Regions from separate parts of the Homo sapiens genome. Here region 2 is linked to region 1. The links come from fine-mapping of genetic effects on gene expression. A gene starts in region 1. The other region holds a variant in brackets. All regions are shown on one strand. Distances are between the middles of the regions.

Region 1 (5,397 bases):
TTTTTATTTTTTAATATATTTTCTGTTTTACAAATTATCTGATGATGTGTATCATTTCTAAAAACAGAACAGAATCAACATTTTTTAAAAGTTTAGTCAAGAAAGGGACATCTAAATTGTTTAGATAACTGTGGTGACATAGACCAGAGAAGGTTTCAAAGGAAATCACTGTTTGTTCGTGAAGTGCAAATCCCTTTCCAGGAAATTAGTATCATGAAAATTATTACCAAAAAATCATAAATATATGCAGGGTTTTGTTTTGAATATATCTCTCATTAAAAAAAACAAATTATTTTTTCAGATGGAGTTGCTTGGATACAAGGAGAATCTTACAGAATACAAATGAACTTGAAGGCATTAGTAATATTTTCAAAATAATAGAGAAATGACACAAAGAGTGAAAGAGGTGAAATCTGTCTTTGATGGGAATAATATCTAAAAGGAGTATTGTACATATCTGCTGGCAGCTTTAAAAAAATTAATGATTACTGAAATTCAGAAATGTCAACAGTATGAAATGAGCAAAATTACTTCCCTAACAAGATTTTATAAGGTGAGCAATTGTTTTGAACATTTTCTAACCTTAACTTTTCTATTTATCTTAAGAATTTAAAAAACAAACAAAAAAAAACCCTAGTGTTTAAATATGAAAAGGAGACTTGTGGCAAATTCAGAATATAATAATTGACCATTAAAATAGAAATGCCTTCTCTAACCAGAAAAATGAATAAGGAAATTATAACTTACATTCTCTATGGATGTCTTTACAGAGATAAAGTAGTGGGATATTTCCTTGAAATAATGTTCATCATCAATGCTGAAGTTTACAGAGGACAAAAATATGAAATCATGTGTTCATAGACAGCCCCAGGACACACACAGTGGATGCATTGTGTTCTCCTGGGTTGCATAACTACTTTGAAAGAAGTTTTCTTTTCTGTGTCATAAAAGAAGACTTTTTGGCTCTGCCAGGATACTCTACCATTTGGCCCCATAGACTTCAAGCATGCCTGAAGATACGTGCCAATGGCTTGTTGGTTTTTGAAGATCATTCTGATCTCTGCTGAGTTACCCAACTGGACTCAGAAGGGTCTGACCCACGTGCCACATTCCAGCTGTTTGCTTGTTTGTTTTTAATCTCAACCTAGTTTAATGGGAAGAAGGTGAGTCACCTTGTGTGTATGTCAGCTGATATTTATGTCATGGAAACTTAAAGGGGATAGACTTGAAATTGAAAAGATAAGATTGTGATTGAATGGGCCTTGTATAAACTATGTTTTGTTTTTGTTCTCTTGCTTACTTACCTTGTAAACAGATTCCTTGAGTCTTAAACCAAGGATCTTAATCTTTGGTATTTACAGAGCCTTTCTTCCATGAAGCAGAGTTATTTAGGATGCTGCCAGCAAATGAGCTCTCAACTGGATCTGTCGTCATCATCATAGAACTTACTATGGTCTGGTAGTATTCAAAGTGCTTACTTAAATTAATTTCTGGAAACAACCTCACACATTTGACTCTATGTATTTTTCCACCTCATGATGAGGAAACAGACACAAAAAGGCCAAATGATTTTTTCAAGGACATTCAGCTAGGAAAGGGCAAAGACAGGCACAGATGAAGAAATAATCACAGGCACAAACGAGGTATCTGTTAATAGAGATCCTAGGAATCTGTGACTGTCAATATGAATTACAAATATGAAAATTATTTGTTGAATCAACAAAGTGGAAATAAAACTATTTTTTCTTAGCTGATTTGGTAATGACTAACAGTCAACATACCTATTAAGTGGTTTTGGTTGAAATAATTTAATTTGTTGTCAATACTAGTTCCCCCCTTTAAATTTAATGATACAGTTCCAATATCTAGATGAACAAATAAAGATAGGAGAAAGAATTCTATATTTTAGTCATTTCTGCTTATGGCCTCAATTTCAGATTCCAGAAATCCATAGCTAAGTAGTTATAAAGCAATTACAGTTGTTAGAGTAGCCCAGGATGGCTGGACAAAGTTGAATATTTCATGACTAAAAACAACAACAGCCAGGCACAGTGGTTCACACCTATAATCATAGCACTTTGGGTGGCTGGCTTAAGCCTGGAGTTCGAGACCAGCCTGGCAGTAAACTGAGACCTTGTCTCTATAAAAGATACAAAAATTAGTTGGTGTGGTGGTGTCTGCTTGTAGTCCCAGCTACTTTGGAGGCTGAGATGGGAGAATCACCTGAGCCCAGGAGGTTGAGGTTGCAGTGAGCTGAAATCGTGCCACTGCATTCCGTCGCTGCACTCCAGCAGCCTGGGTGACAGAGCGAGACCCTATCTCAAAACAAAACAAAGCAACCAAATCAATTCTCACTAAAAATAAACATACCTAAGACATCATCGTATATTTTAAATTCTTTCTAATTAAAGCAATGTTACTAAATATATTTTAAAGAGGCTTGTTATAAATGAAATACTTACAAGGTCATTGTACTGAATTCAAAATTTTTGTTATATGGAAGTTGTAGAACTTTGGGATTATGAAATACTAACACAAGTAAAAAATATAAAGTCCAATCTTTGAAAAGAAGATACTTTGTCTTAGTCAGTTTGGGCTGCTACAACAAAATACCATGGATGTGGTGGCTTCAACAACAGACATTTATTTTCTCACAGTTCTGGAGGCTGGGAAGTCTAAGATCAAGGTACTGGCCGATATGGTTCTTGGTGAGGGCATTCTTCCTACCTGATAGATAGTTACCTTTTTGCTGTGTGCTCATATGATCTTTCCTCAGTACCTGAGCATGGAGAGAGAGAAAGCTCCTGTGTTTCTTCATTTCCTTTGAAAGACATTAATCCCATCACGTAGTCCCCAACCTCATGATCTCATCTAAGCCTAACTACCTCCCAAAGGCCCCACCTCCAAATACCATCAAGATGGGGATTAGGACTTCAACATATGAATTTGGGAGTAACACAGTCAGTCCATAGACACTTCTAGGAAATCTTTTCCATGTAGTCCAGATGCATCTAGCATGCAAACCACAACAGGCTACAGAAGTGACTTGAGGGCAAGAAGAAAGATCCTTCTTTCAGACCCTAAACTCATCTTTCATGGGCCCAGGAAGGAGCCCCCAGCATGGAGGATACCCAAAGACTGAACAATAATATGAGGCTTGAGGCTCACAAATAAACCTCATTAAGAGAGAACTGGGAAAAATCAGAGTCAGAGAAAGAAGGAAAAAAGGTATGGCGGTGGGTAATGGGATTTGAGGTAGGAAAGGAAATGGGAAGGAGCAGAGCACTAGGAGGGAAGGGGAGGCGAAGGGGGAAGGTCAAAGGAAGAGAGAGGGAAGAAGATGACAAGAGCGAGCATAGTTTCACTTTCTCAGCATTAAAATCCTGAAATGGACACTCTAAAAATAAAAACTACAGGAGGTGGGGATTTTACCTGTAAATAATTTAAAAATCACTGAGCTTCCTGCCATGATAGCGCAGGCTATAGATTCCAACAATCTGAAGTGATTTTAAACGTCCCTCTCTAGAGAATAAGTAATAACATCCATCTCCCCCATAGAACAAAATTCCCTTTCTTGATGGAACTGAATGGGGTCAGTGGCATTTTTTTCTTGGAATCTTCACCAGCCCAAACTATAGACATAAGCCAACTTTCACAGAGGCTAGAGATTGTTAAGCTGTGGCTTGTCACCTATAACCCATTTTTATAAAATGTGAATGAAGGCTACTATATTGTTAGTGGCCACCTGTGGACATAAAGAATTTATAAGAGAAAAGTCAATAATGTCTTACCATGTAAGCACATCTGAAATACTGATATGATTTCAGCATTAAGTAAACACTAAAGCAAATTTGGTGACTAGTTGTATGTGTGATACACATATACATATGCATGTATGTATACCATTTAAAAAGAAACACCAAAAAAGTTTAAAATACACTGATTTTATGACAGCTGAAGAGCTAATTGTTGCTTTCCACTATTAAAACTTGGTAAATACCAATAGGAGAGGAATTGCTCAGCTTTAGGAAGGGGTAATTAGGTTTAATGGAACCAGTTGAGAAGAGGAACATTAAGCCTGTTGGGAAAAATTTCCTCCCAATGAAAACTATTAGATAATGGAATCACTTTCCAAGAGAAATGCCTGAAATCCTATCACTGAGGATATTTAGGATTCAGCTGGACATTACAAGACATTCCATGTCTCAGACTTTATGCCCTTTTATGTCCAAAATATGTTAGTATTTTATTTGATGAAATATATTCCAATCCTTTCTTCAGGACTACATATATAAAGAGACTGTATATGTGTATAAATATGCATATATAGTATAAATACATACATATATGTACTATATTTAGACTGTATATGTACAGTCCAAATATACACATAAATACACATATACATATACATACGTACTAAATATACATATACATATGTACTATACATATGTAGTCTAAATATAGTACATATGTGTATATGTGTATGTAGAGAGAGATAGGTAGATAGGCAGGTAGGTAGATTAATTGATAAATAGATAAATAGATATAAGGGAGAGAAACAGAAAAAGAATCTTAAGATTCAAGGTTCTTTTCTGTTTGTTTTTAAACTTGCAGGTTACAAATGAAAACACTAAAAACTGTGATTGATGAACAATAAAGAAATATACTCAGATAACAAGCACCTCCCTTTTTCTTGTTATACTAATTTCACCCTCAAGAGTCAGAAGCAACCAGGTTTGCATTTATTTTCAGTTAGTACTGGTTGCTTCTGAGAATAAGCCCAACTATTAATCTGAAATTCCAATAAAAGCACCAAAAAAAAAAAACCTCAGATGACAAAAATTAAAAATGTTCAGACTCTTAGTGAGAATTTAAGGTTCAATGACTTATCTAACTTTTTCTTGTAAAAAGAACAATCACTTTCAGAAAACCTATGCCCGCATGGAATGATGCATCCACTTCCTCCTAAACATAGATCACATTATCAGTGTTGCCAAATATATCAACAACAGCCTGACTGTTGAACACCATGTTTATCTAATGGACCATAACAGACAGCGAGAACAAGCACAGTTGGAGACAGCAATCTCTAAAAGTATTTCCAAACCAGCATCATTCTTTATTTTTTTTCTTTCCTTTTTCAATTAAGGGAAAGGGAGTTATTAAGCAAGACATACAAAAGCACTGTTAGGATAGCTCCACTGAAACCATTTCTTTCTGCTAAAATGTAAAATAATTCTGGAGGGTCACATTTTTATGTATTCACATGAGAACTAGGACAGAGAAGAAGGAGGGCCGTGGAGTCAAGTTTACACTGGACACCTAATCAAATCTGTTGTGAATTGCATAGAGAAAATTCCTAAGGACTCCAGAGATAAATTCTCAACTTTTCCC
Region 2 (5,397 bases), 61 kb before region 1:
GAAGAGACTGACTAGAGATCCATCTGTTAAACTGCTGGATCCATACCAGACACCATGAATTAACTACAAAATAGGTCCATTATATTGTCAGGGTTCGATAGAGGGCCAGAGATATGCAGCTGATCCCACATTCTGAATAGACTAATGTTGAGATAGGAATAAGGCAGTCAACAGTAGATGAATACAAATTCTTCCATAAAATGAAGTTAATTCCTTGTGCAAATCAGTTAGCAATGATTCGACCAGTTTAAAACAACACAACTAACTCTGATGTTTTTACAATAAGCTATCTCAAGCTGAGCCAAAATTCTCAAAGTCTGATTTCAATTGCCACTAGCTCCTGAATATTGTCATTCCTCGACAAATGAAAATAGACCAGAAGAAATGCAACAAAGATAAACTAGATGTATTTGTTCTTTCACAGTCATTCAACTCCTAACACTTTATAAAATTAATGAAAATAATTTTAAAAACCAAACATCCAAACAACCACAAATCAGACTACCACGGTGCTTTGCTGTCACAATATGAAAGGTGCTGTTTGTATTCTGTAGAATGAAGAATGTCAGGATTTTTGATATAGCATTGATAGTTCATAAAAGGTTATGTCAACCTCCTTTAGAGCAAGTGGATCTATTTTAATATGGTAGGTGAAGGATAGAATACACGGATACCAGGTTCTATCCCTTTTAAGCTTTCCATCCTGTTTTTCTTTCCAGGGACAATTTAAAATAGAAATAAATGGGCTTAAATAAAGATAAGTGTCAGTTTTTGTCCACTCAGATATTTTTTTTTCTCATATCCTCATTTCTTTTTCTGTCCTTAACCCCAAATGTTGAGAAAGAATACTTCCACCCAAGGCAGCAATAGGTTCCTATTTCTGGTCAAATGTCTTCCATCCCTTTGCCGCTTTCTAGCTCTTTTTTTGTTTCATTTTGTTTAAGCAATCATGTCCTTTAGGCATTAAAAAAAAGAGTAGCATCTATTAGAAGACTCTCCTAAGGCAATTTTTTAAGGGAGGGAGACAGAAAAAGTACTTGACACTGAGAAAATAAGAAAATAAATTAAAGTTCTTGATTGCATTCAAATTCACATGCTAAGAAAAAGAAATTGACTCTTTTTTCCACTCACAGTCTTAACCCATGTGCACATACCACACATGCATACATACACACACATAGCAAAAGCACACTTACATACATGTAGTCACACTGAAATGAACACAAACCTCCTGCAGCATTTCAGGTAAAAGTTAAGAAATCTATTTATCCCAGATATGTGGGATATATACATATACAATCTTACTTTGAATGAATAGATATATGTTCTCAGAACAGATATGTTCCTAGAGTAGCCTTTGCTATTCTATTGATATAAGGCCACCCAAAACCCCATCAGTAAACAATCTATTAGCATTTGTACAATGCAGTAAGCCCATTTTTCATGCCATGTTATGATTGGGCTTTAAGACAACAGGAGAGTGAAGGAATTGCAACCCCTACGTAAAGACTGTCTGGTGGCTACTGGACCATATTGTACATTTGAATATATCTGTTTTGAGACTAAAAGTTCTGTAGTATGGATGAAAACAGATTCTCACCATTCAAGAATGATTACAGCTCCATTTGGTTGTGGCCCCAAAGGATAATAACAAAGCCCTTTTTCAATTTAGGATTTTAGAAAGTAAAGCTGACAAATAGGTATGGATCATACTGTCAGAAGGAATATCTGTATTCTACAGCACAGCCCTGTTTACAGCACCTGAAAGCTTCTAATAGAAGCACAACTTTGACAGATTGTAATTTTAAGACTCTTTGTTATTACTCTTAAAGAATAAATGAAATAGTGATGCTATTATTAAAATTTTCCAAATCCTAGTCCAGATTTGGGAAGTAAACGAGTAAGTTCATTGACATAGTTCTCTAATTTGTAAGATTATTCTACAGTCATTATAACACACATATGCATAAAATATAAGGTAATGACACAAAGAGGTTGTTTCATGTCATTGGACCTGCTCTGTCCTTTGCGCTGGGAAATGAGTTTCCTGGGGAAGAAAGAAAATCAAGCTCTTAGATTTCTCTTCCAGATCTAACATGCTAGAATTGAGTCTCTTTTCTCATGCATCAAGTTGCTGGATGTAAGATGTCACCAGCTCAATGGCTGCCCATACAACTTACAAATGTCCATCGGGTGTAACAACACAGGAAATCAGTGCCACAGCACCAAGAAGCCATGCATGATGACCACACACTTTGATACAGCTCTGGGGTCTGCCGTGCCACAAGCTCTATCCCCATGTTGCCTTCCCACCTGGACCTCTTGGCAAGAGGGTCACAAAGTTACCATGTATTAGATCCTGAGAGGGTCACAGGGATCATATAATCCAACATTCTCATCTCATAGATGAGGAAGTGAGAGCTACGTACTGCATGGCATTCCTGAGGTTTCACAGAAAATTTCTGTCAAAGTCTGGACTGAAGCATATGATTCCTGAAAAACAGTTTTCTAGAATCTTACTATGCAAAGCATAGTGCTCAGAGCAGCAGCATTGGGAACTAACTAGAAATGCAAACTCTCAGGATTTGCTTTATACCTACTGTATTAAACAGTAGGTATAAAAACAAAGAAACAAAATCAATAAAATATATGTATATATGCCTATGTGTGTATATATACATGTATATAGATCTATTTTTATATATATATATATATATATATATATAGAGAGAGAGAGAGAGAGAGAGAGAGAGTGTGTGTGTGTGTGTGTGTGTGTGTGTGTGTGTGTGTGTGTGTGTGTGAAGAGACTTATTTTAAAGAACAGGCACATGCAGTTGTGGGAGCTGGCAAACCTGAAATTTACAGAAAAGGCCAGCAGGCTGGAAACTCAGGCAGGATTTCTATGTAGCAGTATTAACAAAGGACTCTATCTTCTCTGGGAAACTTTGCTTTTTACTTTTTAGGCATTCAATTGACAGTGCATCATGGTCCATTAACGGTCCATCCACATCTCTGGTGGCAAACTCCCTTACTTAAAGTCAACTGATTATATTAGTCAC[T/A]TCTACAATCCTTCATAGCAACATCCAGACTAATGTTTGACAAAAACACTGGGCACAATAGCTTAGCCAAGCTGATAAATAAAATGTATCTATCACCTCTACTGAATCAGAATCAGCATTTTAACATGATCCCTAGGTGATTCTTGTGTCCATTAAATTTTGAGAAGCTCCCATTTTGCTGTTTATAAGTTTTGGCAACATCAAAGTTCCACTGTTATAACAGAGAGACCCACTGTAACAGTGCATTAGGTAAGTTAGAAGTTTATTTCTCCCTCATGAAAAGTTTGAACATTACAGTCTGAGACAAAGAAGGAGATCTGACAACCTCCAGGAACCCAGGACTCTTCTAACTTGCTGCTCTGCCATCTTTAATGCATGGCTTCCATTAGCTGGGCCAAGTTCATTGTTTCAGATCTTGCCATCATGCCTTTGTTCTCATCAGGATAAAGAGGGAAAACAGCCAGAGAGGGCACAATTATTTCCTTTAACTATGTGACCCAGAAGTTACACTCATCTCAGCTGTTCAAATCCCATAGTTCAAAACTTGGTTATGTAGCCACATATAGCTGCAAGGGAGGCTGGAGAACATTGTCCTTTTACAGAGTGGCCAATTATGCAATAATAATTCAGTAAGATTCAAAATTCTGTAATTAAAGAAAAAATGGGAGACTGGTTACTATATAAGACAGCTAATTATTCCTGCTCTTTATTTTTCTGCACCAGGCTACCTGCAAGATGAGGAGACAGGAGAAGCAGCAGAAGAAAGGAACCAGATTTCCTGCTTTCTTCTATAGTGAAGAGAATTGAACCCAGAGTATCACTTGCATAAGGAAACAAGACTGTTGGCTGCTCATGCTTTCATTGCATTGATTAGCTACTTCCTCAATATGGAGCCACCCTTGACAAATGCAGCCAGAATGTAAGTTTTCCTTCACCGACGGAAGTAGCTGTGGTAGAAGAAAGATAATTCTAGACTCTGAGGGTTTTTGGGGGGGTTTTGTTTCGTTTTTACATTTCATCACTTACATTTCCTCATTGTCTTACAAGAATAACTCACTTCTCCCAGTTTCCAAGGTCAAGAAGAAATATCAGGAGAAAATAACTCTCTAGCTCAATTTTTGTAATTCTCATATTCCACATCTGGTGATAAAATCATATACTGCCACTTTTAAAGTTTATGCTGACCATCAAACTCCTTATTTCCTTTCCTTAGGCAGAAGTCTCTGTGTCTGGTGGGTAAATGAGAAGTATGCAGAGGTATGCCTAAGGATAGTTTTAGGCAGAAGAGTGATGTTTGCATAAGTATATTTTTATTTAATCGACGAAAGAAGGTTGACACAAAAATTACTTAATAATAGAAGAAAAATCTGTAAAAATATATCAATTTCTCTTTGCTACTACCTCCCACAATAACACATACACAAATTTCCTTCAGAGACAAACAGCATATTGTGCAGAATTTGCTGTAACCAAGGTAACTAAACATTGTTCTCATATCAACTTTTAAGACGAAAAAAACAGGCATTGTTGTATTGAATGTTTCTTTGTAGTAGTGTTTATTGCTATGATATTTCCTGAAATTTTCAATATTTAGGTTTACATCAGGCTACTTGTTTTCTTCTAGGCACTAACTATACCTTTCAACAGGTAGTTAGAGGCATCCGCATTATAGGCCAAAGTGTTTTTTGAACCAAACAAATAAAAATGTATCAATGACAGGATTCTACTTATTTTCACATCTCTATAATAAGAGTATTTATTAGCATAACAGAATATCAATTTGTAGATGCTATATATTAATTTCATGGCCCACAAGAATAAGTGTACATACAAAGAATGATATATACAGTATGACATTATCAATAACTTGCCTGTTTACCATTTTATATAAAACCATTTGACATCTCTCTCACCAAACTTGATTCATTAATAATTATCTCTCATCTAGTTTTTTGATGAAAAAGAATGAGAGAGTTCATCCCAAATTTTATATAACTTTATATGAGGATCATTTCTCCCAAGTGGATATAAAGACATCTTTCTTAATGCAGATACTCTTTCAAAGTTTTCATTTATATGAGCGTTGCTCTTAGATGTCCAATTATGCAATGCAAACAAAACTCTTTTTGATGTTCATGAGCGTAGAACCCAGTCTGAAGTTCTGTGACATTACATTTCCCCACTAAACTTTATCCTCTTGATCTTCAGTTAATATTAATCTTTGATAGACATGCTCTAATAGCCCTCATTCATTCCTACATGGATTCTATTTTTCCTTTTAAAAATATCTCAATTACTTTGTGCAAACTGGGCTCATAAGGGCATTTTGAGCGTCCTT

The links. PIP is the estimated chance that this variant, and not a neighbour inherited with it, causes the effect. A credible set is the group of variants that fine-mapping cannot tell apart.
Region 2: its variant is the best candidate, but not a certain one, in a credible set for the expression of LINC02941 in tibial artery (GTEx, PIP 0.85).

The regions. Positions count from the first base shown.
Region 1 is chr6:139,973,778-139,979,174 of GRCh38, reverse strand. LINC02941 (long intergenic non-protein coding RNA 2941) reads right to left here and starts at 2,856. Exons shown (of 2, transcript NR_121623.1): 1 at 2,743-2,856. It overlaps LOC103352541 (a long non-coding RNA gene), which reads left to right. Exons shown (of 3, transcript NR_121624.1): 2 at 302-553; 3 at 771-825.
Region 2 is chr6:140,035,010-140,040,406 of GRCh38, reverse strand. All of the region lies in intron 1 of LINC02941 (long intergenic non-protein coding RNA 2941), which reads right to left. LOC107986652 (a long non-coding RNA gene) reads left to right here. Exons shown (of 3, transcript XR_001744384.2): 3 at 3,783-4,138. Among named protein-coding and RNA genes, the nearest start is that of LINC02941, 61 kb to the right of the region's middle. The variant T/A (reference allele first, on the strand shown) is at 3,060.